Regions from separate parts of the Homo sapiens genome. Here region 2 is linked to region 1. A link means that fine-mapping ties the variant in region 1 to the expression of a gene that starts in the linked region. Tissue or cell type: hypothalamus. Region 1 holds a variant in brackets; the other region holds the start of a gene. All regions are shown on one strand. Distances are from middle to middle.

Region 1 (5,827 bases):
TCTCCAGCTGCTTCTTGCCATCCTCATCCTGCCATTTCTTGCAGTACTTGGTAAAGGCCTTCTTCTTAGATTTATGCCTTCAGGAGCAGAGCAGAGTTGGGGAGGGGACCAGGTGCAGGCCTTCATCACCCCTCCGAGGGGTGAGCGGAAGGCACACTGGCACCGCGTGGGGATGGAGCTCATTGCCGGCTTCTAAGGAGCCTTTTCCACCAGCAAGCGGAGCCTGGATGGAGCTCATCGGGCAGAGCCGAGCGGAGCTGAGCAGAGGTCCACAAGGTTAATTTAAGTTACACGCATTCAAACAAAATTCTTGCTCCGGGACAAACCTTTCTGCCCTGGGGAAGCCCACTCAGTGATGAAGGAAATGGGACATTCCACCCAGGGCCAGAGGCCCTTGCCACCCCTATAGGGGTTTAATTATTCTGCTACCTCTCCTGGTTTCTAGTTGGACTCCTCAACCAACTGGGTCCTCAGCCACCACCCACTAGCCTGGACTCAGAATGAGGGTGTTAGCTTCCGGCTGAAACCAGATGGCTGGCCAAGTCTGATCCCAGGTATTTTTCTGTTCGAGAGGCAAACTAAACCCAAGACAGCAGCTCCCTGCCTGCTACAGAGCTGAGAAACCATGCACACGCTGCTCCCTGCTCTCCAGCTCCCAAGCTCCCAAGCTAGGGACTGCATGGCCTCCTCCCTTACCAATTCTTATAGAAACGCCTCTTGCATTCATCACTGATGTGCTCAGCAAAGACAGTCTTGAAGGTCCGGAGGCCTCGAGGGGTTTCCACGTAGCCCACAATGCCCACAACCACCATGGGTGGTGTCTCTACAATGGTCACAGCCTCCACCACCTCCTTCTTGTTCACCTCTGCAAAAAAAAAGCAGTAGTCAGACTTGGCAGGAGCCCAAGCAAGGGGTGTAATGTTTTCTAGGAAAATGCAAAGTGCCCATTTAGGCCGGAAGGGCAACTGGGCCCCACACCTGCAGTACGGACTCACAGGGCTGTCCTTACTGCCTATCTCTCATTCAAAGCACATTTATGTTATTCAAACAAAAAATATCAGGACCCTAGACAGCCAAATACCTGTCCAGCTTCAATTCTCTTCTACAGAAACCTCTGGAGGCAGACAAGATTGCTATTTATCTGGAAAATTCAGTGCCCTAACAATAGCTCTGAGCTCAGAGATTAGTCAGTATCAACTGCCTAACATTAATGTCTCCATGGCTCAGCAACCAGTGCTGTTAGACATCTCTAAGTAGAACACACACAGGTAAGTGGCCATTATTCAAGCTTTCAGGTGAAAAAAACATGAATGAGGCAGTTCTTATGCCAGCCTCAGCAGCTCCAACCCCCCACACTAGTGTTAACTTCTCTTTGCTAAGGTTCCTGGCAAATTTACTATGCTCTGAAATCAATACCCCACACCGCACCTAAAGCAAACAGTGCTGACCATCTGTAGCCTTGGAATATTAGTTTTCAAGTTAAGCATTCCCATTCTGCTGTCGCAGCAGTTCTGACAACGTGTAACTCCTGCTTAAAAAAAAAAGTCTGCCCTCTGCTAACAGCTTGACTCCATCTCTACAATTTCCCTCCCCCTCCACTCCTATTCCCCCAACTTTTAGGATGTCTGTACATACTGGATCCCGGCCTGTCGACTTCCCGCACGATGTGAGTCATGCCAGCCTTGTATCCCAGGAAGGCTGTGAGGTGGACCGGCTTGGACGGGTCATCCTTAGGGAAGCTCTTCACCTTCCCACGATGCCTGCTGCTGCGCTTCCGAGGCAGGAAGCCGAGGGACCCATGTCTGGGAGCGGAGAACTTTCTGTGAGACTAGGTGGGAAAAAAATCACCGTCAGCACCCAAACCAAAGCAGTGCCCCCTTCTCTAGTTCCCAGCTGCTTAAGTTCCAAATCTCAGCAATACTGAAGAATCCTGACCAGACACCCAGCAAGCCGAATAAAAAGGTCATTATCTCTTCCAGGCTCGCACGTGTCAAGAATGCTTTTGTATTCGACAAAATTTAAGCTGAATCTTATTTCAAATCCTCTCAACCTGTAAGAAAACGACCCATTTTTTTTATCTAACCACACAAAAATACACTAAGTAGTGGCACTAAAAACTGCTTAACAGGCAGCTTTATATGCCAATTAGCAAGGTTTTGACCGCTAAAGAAAGGGACTCCCGGGACAAACGCTGGGTAGCAGCTAGCAATGTTAAGCTATAGGCTGCCTCCGGTGCCCGGACACTAATTACACTGATACACACAGGCCAAAGAACTCCGCAGAGCCAAATCAGAACGTGACAATCAGCACACAGTTTCTGTCCGCCCGTCAATAAGTTCATCATCTGTGGTTTCTGCGAGCTCCAGAGGCCTTCGGAGTGCACCAGCGGCCCCAGATATTCAGGAGGACTCCACAACACTCCCCTCCCCCAAGCTTCTTTACCTCCCAATGAGAACGGCGCCGAGAACCTCCACCCAAGGTCCTTCTACCCAGACAAGCAGGTTATGGGCCCTAATCCCAACTAATGATAGAATTGGTGAGGTCGAAACTTAGAAATGACTCATGGCTTTAAAAACGCCGGGCCTCCAAGCCTGCTCCCACCCTTACGGCCTCTCTCTGGCCGACCTGCAGGCCCAAAGCCAGTCCTCCAAGCGCTCTTCACAAGCCTCTCGACTTTCCAGAAAATAGGCCAGACTGAAGTCCCCGCTGGGTCGCCCGTGCCCCTAAAGCAAACCCCCGGCGCCGGCCAAGACGGGATGGCGGCGATGCGTCGCGGATTCAGCCGTGCCGACGCCGGTGACAATGAAACGGCCGCCATTACAACACATACCATCACGC[C/T]ATCAAATCCCGCCGGTAGAGGCCGGTCGGCCTTACGGGTCCGCTATATAAAGCCAAATCTGGCCCCGCCCCTTCCGGCGTGCGAGCGCGCCCCCGCGGCAGACGACAGGTCGGGGGCACGTACCGAGCGCCATTTCCACGCACGCTCTTCCGCTCCTAGCTTTCGTTCAGAAGTTGACGTCAGCTTCGGAGACAGAAATTACACACTCTACGGCGAGGGGTCGGGTTCAAACTTAGTGAAAAGCCGCGGAGAGGTGGGCTAAGGGTGGGTGAGCCACAAATCTACGGCGTCCGGCAGCAGCCAAATTTGATAATAACGAAGAAAAATGGCTGCGTCGCTTCTCCTCCTGTGATATGCAGCTATCTCTGGAATTAGCGAAGAAAGACTGAAACTCTCGTTTCCTGGCTCCCACGCTGGTTTTGCGGCGACACCAATTTACCTTTAATACCTTTAATCTCGGGCATCCCTCCCTCAAGCCCTATCTCTGCCATTTCTCCCATGCTAATGCAGTGGCCCGCGCTTGATTCTGAGGGTCAGGAGCGTCCCAAGCCTGCGGAACGGCCTCACGACCTCTGGTCATGCCGAGTCCAGCTGCTCAGCCTCCCGGAGCCCCACGCCTTCCAGACCTATGCATCAGCGAGGGCTTTCGCTGATCTCTGCCTAGGCTCCAGGGTGACTCGGATCCTGACCGATTCCCTGCTTCCAGGCTGGTCCCTTACAAATCTCTTTTTTGAGACGGAGTCTCGCTCTGTCGCAGTGGCGCGATCTCAGCTCACTGCAAGCTCCGCCTACCGGTTCCCAGTTCAAGCAGTTCTCCTGCCTCAGCCTCCCGAGTAGCTGGGATTACAGGAATGCGCCACCATGCCTGGCTAATTTTTTTTTTTTTTTTTTTTGTATTTTTAGTGGAGACGGTGTTTCACCATGTTGGCCAGGCTGGTCTTGAACTCCTGATCTCGTGATCCGCCCGCCTCGGCCTCCCAAAGTGCTGGGATTACAGGTGTGAGCCACCGCGCCTGGCCCCCTACAAATCTTTCTAAGAATCAAGTATCTCGTTACTTTCCATGGCCGCCTCGTTGTTTCCTCGGAATTAAGCATCAACTTCAGCGGCCACCAAAGACGCTCCCCTAACCGTCTACTTCAGCCTCATGGCTGCGCCAGAGCACACGCTCTCATATCACCTGCTTCCTCTGTCCCACCCTGTCATCTTCTTTAATTCTGGGCCTGGCCTTTGCTCCCACCGTCGTTTGAAAAGCATTCTCTCGGCCAGGCGCGGTGGCTCACGCCTGTAATCCCAACACTTTGGGAGACCGAGGCGGGCGGATCACCTGAGGTCAGGAGTTCGAAACCAGCCTGGGCAACATGGCGAAACCCCGTCTCTATTAAAAATACAAAAATTAGCGGGGCACGATGGTGTGCGTCTGTAATCCCAGCTACTTGGGAGGCTGAGGCGGGAGAATCGTTTGAACCCGGGAGACGGAGTTTGCAGTGAGCTGAGATTGCGCCAGTGCAATCCAGCTCAAAAAAAAAAAAATTATCTCAATCCTCACACCATTCCCGAAGGACATAAGTGATAGATCTTCAATCCATTATTAGAAATCCTGGGGGCCACATATGTTTCAAAATTGAGCATTTTTTGATTTTTAGAAAGGTAATATGGTGCACATACTGTATATTATGTAATACAGCACTTTTTAAAGAAAAACAATATTCCGTAAGGAAACATGAATATTCACATGGAGTGGGACAAATATAAATAGACTCACATCAGTTCAAGGCTGACTTTGCTGCTCAAAAAATGCATCAGTTTACTTTTTGCTGCCAAATAATTTAAGAAGGTTTTTAAAATTTCAGGATACAGGCCAGGCACGGTGGCTCACACCTGTAATCCCATCACTTATGGGAGGCTGAGGAGGGTGGATCACTGGAGGTCAGGAACTTGAGACCAGCCTGGCCAACACAGTGAAACCCCGTTTCTCCTAAAAATACAAAAATTAGCAGTTGTTGTGCACGCCTGTAGTCCCAGCTACCCCGGAGGCCGAGGGAGGAGAATTGCTTGAATCCGGGAGGCAGAGGTTGCAGTGAGCCGAGATCGTGCCATTGTGCTCCAGCCTGGGTGACCAATCAGGATTCTGTCTCAAAAAAAAAAAAAAAAAAAAAACAAGACCAGGCGTGGTGGCTCATGCCTGTAATCCCAGCACTTTGGGAGGCCAAGGTGGGTGGTTCACCTGAGATCAGGAGTTCGAGACCAGCCTGGCCAACATGGTGAAACCCCGTCTCTACTAAAAATACAAAAATTAGCCAGGGGTGGTGGTGGGCGCCTGTAATCGCAGCTACTTGGGAGGCTGAGGCAAGAGAATTGCTTGAACCTGGGAGATGGAGGTTGCAGTAAGCCAAGATTGCACCATTGCACTCCAGCCTGGGTGAGAAAAGCAAAACTCCATCTCAAAAAAAAAAAAAAAAAAAAATTTCAGGATGCAGACAAAGGATTATAACCTACCCATATTGCCCCCCGCCCTTTTTTTTTTCCGATACGGAGTCTGGCTCTATCGCCCAGGCTGGAGTGCAGTGGCGCACAGTGGCACTATCTCGGCTCACTGCAAGCTCTGCCTCCCGGGTTCATGCCATTCTCCTGCCTCAGCCTCCCAACTATCTGGGACTACAGGCACCCGCCACCAGGCCCGGCTAATTTTTGGTATTTTTAGTAGAGACAGGGTTTCACTGTGTTATTCAGGATGGTCTTGATCTCCTGACCTCGTGATCCACCCGTCTCAGCCTCCCAAAGTGCTGGGATTACAGGTGTGAGCCACCGCGCCCAGCCTATTGCCCCGTTTTTACATAGAAAACTAAACTTCCAGCCAAGAGGTTAATAACTTGACAAAGTCACATAATTAGTGAAGGACAGAGCTCAAGTCTATCTGACTCCAGGTTGGTTTTTCACGGCATTAGACTCAGGGATCAATAATCCCCTTATCGGAAAAGGAGCTTTGG
Region 2 (4,000 bases), 140 kb after region 1:
CTTGGGAATCTGGAAAGGTCAGGAGAACAAAGACCCAAGCTGGGGGAAGATGGAGAGCAAGCAAGTCCCCTGACCCTGGCCAGCTCTGGGCAGGGCAGCTTCCCTGGGGAGTGGGGCGTGTCTTTACTTCTCACTGGGCCTCAAGGGCAGGGGCTGGGGCTTGGGCAGGTCCTCCTCCCCTTTGCCAGGAGCAATGGAAATGGAGGAATGTGATTATTTTGTGCCTGCCTTCGTGCTTGGGGGCCAATGTCAAGGTTTTCTTGATGCTCAGAACGAGTTCAATGGAGAATCCAGACTTGAAACAGCACTTCTTTCATGGGCTGAGGGACGCCCAGAGTTGCTGCTGAAGGCTCAGGGAGGGAGAGAAGGTTCTGGGGAAGGAAAGTGTCTGTGAGGCGGTCCCTTCCAGAGGGGAATGAGTCCCAGGCAGGGAGAGCTGTGGCATGGGGAATTGGGGGAGGGGGACACATTTGAGCAGAAATTGAAGGTTCTTTGGGGGCCGGAGAAGAAGGGGCAGAGAGGGTTGAACAGCCAGGCTGGGGAGAGGAGGAGGGCAACATTTTTGCAGGGCAGAATAGACTGGATTTTGGGGGAGTGACAATTACCTTAAGCACATGTCATGGAGATGATTTATTTTTTTTTTGAGATGGAGTCTTGCTCTGTTGCCCAGGCTGGAGTGTAGTGGCATGATCTCGGCTCACTGCAACCTCCGCCTCCTGGGTTCAAGCAATTCTCCTGCCTCAGCCTCCCGAGTAGCTGGGATTACAGGCGTGTGCCACCACACCCGGCTAATTTTTGTATTTTTAGTAGAGATGGGGTTTCATCATGTTGTCAGGCTGGTCTTGAACTCCTGACCTTCTGATCCACCTGCCTCAACCTCCCAAAGTGCTGGGATTACAGGCATGAGCCACCATGCCCGGCCCATGGAGATGTTATAATGGAATGTGCTTAGAGTGATAGGAACTAGGAATGGATCTTACACTTTCAAATGGTTGGGAAAACATCAAAAAATGTTTCTGGACACGTGAAAATGACACGAAATTCAAATTTTTGTGTCCATAAAGTTTTATTGGAACACCGCCAGGCTCATTCTTTTACGTATTGTCTATGGTTGATTTTATGCTACGATGGCAGAGTTGAGTAGTTGGGACAGAGACCATATGGCTGGCAAAGCCTAAAAGATTTACAATCAATCTCTTAAAGCAAATGGTTTGCCCACCCTTGCTTAGAGAGAGCCTCCAGGAAGAAAAGAGCAGTGAGGGTGACGTTGAAGAAGGGGGCAAGACTAGGTCACCAGGGGCTCCCTGTGCCCCGCCCAGGCACTGAACTTAAGCTGAGGGCAAGTGGGAGCCATTGAAGGTGCAGGCAGGAGAGTGACCTGCTCAAGTGAATGTTGGAGTAGGATCACTCTGCCTCCTCAGCAAGGATGGATGAAGCTGGGCACGGAGGCACCTGGAGCAGGTAGACCAGCCCTAGGCAGCCCGGATGGTTCAGCAAAGGCCTCTGGGACTATTCTGGAGCACATTCGCTGGGATATAGAATAGGTAGCGCATCCCTGCACCTTCGACGATGGCGGCGCAGAGATGTCTGCTGCGTACCCACAATGCCTTGTGCCTCGCACCGCGGGAGGAAGTGGCTGCTCTGTAGGCCCCAGAACGGAACCACTTGAAAGGCGGGAAACACGTGGGGGACGCCTCTGAGCCCTGAGAGGAATGGCCTAGAGCAAGGCCACGAGGAGCCAGGGCACGACACGGTGGGCCCTCGGAGAACCGCTGGTGGGCAAGTGGCAGGAGAGTAGGCTCAAGAGGGTTGGCAGGGCCGACCGGGCCTAGGGTGGCCGGGTGAGGGGGGCGGGGGAGGGGAGGCCCCCCCAGTTACCCCAGGAGTGCGCAGGTGGCTTCGGGCATGTGAGGGACGGAGGGGGTCGGACGGAAGGACACAGGCCGGTGTACAGCGGTCACCCACGCCCCAAGCAGACACACAGACTCTGCAGACACCGTAACAGGCCCGGCACCGTGCACACATCACAGGCCCAGGCCTCTGCACATGGTCACAGATGCCTATGCGAAATCCCGGCCCAGGTTCACGCGGGCACAGGCGCATCCACGCACACACCGCAACACGGATCTGCACGTCCATGCACACACAGGCACAGACTCGGGCACACGGAGTCACACCGACCCGGGCACGCTGCGGAACGCACCCGTCCACGCATACACAGAACGGGACTTGCTGCCCCGCACGCACACCAGGCCCGCACTCCGAACTACCCGCATTCCCCGCACACGCCCCCGCGCAGGCCGCCCCGGGCCGTGGGCCGGCGCACGCACGGTCACAGGAGGGGCGCGCGCACACTCGCACTCACACACACTCGCTCGCACACGCACACACTCGATCCAGCACGCGCGGGCGGCGCGGGGCGGCGGCGGCCGGAGTCTGCGGTGCGAGGCGCCCCCGGCCCGGCGCGGCGGCGGAGCCCGGCTGGCGGGGGAGGGGAGGGGGTTGCGGAGGGGGCGGGGTGGGGGCCGGAGCCGCTTGAGCCGGCGGGAGCGGGCACCCCTGCGCGCCGCGCTCGGCCTCGCCTCCGCGCCCCCCGCGCGCCCGCCGCGGTCCCTCCCCCGCGCCCGTCCGCTCGCCGGGCCCCCGCCGCCGCCCCGGGGTGCAGCCGAGCGGCCGCGCCGGGTCCCCGGGACGGGGTGGAAGTGGGGGTGGGGGGAGGGGATCGGGGCCGGGCCGGGGCCGCGCTGCCTGCGATGCCGGGCGCCCGCCGCAGCCGCTGCCGCCGGAGCCCGGGATGGGGCGAGAGGCTGCGGCGGACGCCAGCATCTCCCCGCCGGGGACCCCGGGGGCCGCGGAGCCGCCGCCGCCGCTGCTGCCGCCGTTGCTGAGACCCAGCGGGCGATGGGTGAGTTGACCCCGGCGTCCTGGGGGGCGCCGCGGCCCCTCTATCCCCGCGCTGCCCGCCCTCCCGCGCTGCGCTTGGCGCCCCCCGCCCGGCTCCGCGGCCCACTCCCCGAGCGTGACCTTAGGGGGCGGGCGCGGGCGCACTGGGGCTGGGGGCCCGGAGGCCGCGGTGGGGGCGGGATGCCGGGGAAGCCGCTCGGCGCGGGCCCCCTCCCCCTACCCGCCGCTCCTCCGAGCTCCCCGGTCCCCGGAGGGCAGAGCCTCAGCGCCCGACCCCCTCCCACGGCCGGGCGGGGGACGTCCCCGAGGCGCGGGGCTCGAGCCGTGCTTTGTGCGCGGCACCCCCCAGCCTCCGGCGCGGCTCCCCCACAACCTCCGGCGCGGCGCGGGGCTGGGGTGGGAGGCCTCCGCGCCCGCCTTCCCCACCCCCGACCCCAGACTGCGGCGGCGGCAGCCGAGGCCCAAGCGCAGTCGGGGGCTGGGCGGGTGCGGGGGCTGCGGCCGTAGCTACCCCTGGGGACCAGGCAGAGGCAAATGTGGAGAGGGCCCCCGGCCATTTACCGGGGTGGGGGCCCCCGGCTCCTTGCATTGCTCTGCCCAGGGCGGGGGAGGGAACCTGGCTGAGGGAGGGCGCTATAAATATCTGCAAATAGTGAGTTCTGGAACCGGGAGTGGGGAGGGGAGTGCGCCTGGGTGTGTGTATGGTGGGGTTCCTGAGCTGGGGTGCAGCAGGAAGGGATGCCGCGCGGCCAGACCTAGTGGTCTGAGGTCGGATGACCCCCAGCCCCGGAAGATGCCCCTGAAGGCCCCTGATGGGGTGTGGGCAGACACACTACCCCAGTGGGATTCCTCCCTGGTTCCCCACTTCATTCCTGGGACACACCAGTCCAGATTCGCCTTGATGGGGGAGTTGTGAGCACTGGCGTGTCGTTTGGGGAGGGGGAGCAGTTATGAAAGATCCAGACATGGAGCCCAGCAGAAGGATGGAGGGGAGAGCCCCCACCCCCAGGAGCTGCAGCTCTGAGGGGGTTTTCAGTCTAAGGAGTGCTAAGGGGAGCCGCTCTGGGTCCTAGGAAGGTTTGAAAGAGGGGTCCCA

The links. PIP is the estimated chance that this variant, and not a neighbour inherited with it, causes the effect.
Region 2: MGAT3 starts here. The variant in region 1 is fine-mapped to the expression of MGAT3 in hypothalamus (GTEx, PIP 0.97).

Annotation. Positions count from the first base shown.
Region 1 is chr22:39,316,765-39,322,591 of GRCh38, forward strand. It overlaps RPL3 (ribosomal protein L3), which reads right to left and starts at 2,859. Exons shown (of 10, transcript NM_000967.4): 1 at 2,831-2,859; 2 at 1,636-1,828; 3 at 697-865; 4 at 1-77. The coding sequence starts at 2,833. It overlaps SNORD43 (small nucleolar RNA, C/D box 43), which reads right to left and starts at 2,349; the gene lies at 2,288-2,349. SNORD139 (small nucleolar RNA, C/D box 139) reads right to left here and starts at 132; the gene lies at 78-132. RefSeq lists enhancers at 69-957, 775-864, 1,848-2,737, 2,604-2,653, 2,738-3,627 and 3 more. The variant C/T (reference allele first, on the strand shown) is at 2,839.
Region 2 is chr22:39,454,653-39,458,652 of GRCh38, forward strand. MGAT3 (beta-1,4-mannosyl-glycoprotein 4-beta-N-acetylglucosaminyltransferase) reads left to right here and starts at 2,360. Exons shown (of 2, transcript NM_002409.5): 1 at 2,360-2,905. RefSeq lists silencers at 2,286-2,345, 3,076-3,345, 3,356-3,485 and an enhancer at 3,806-4,000.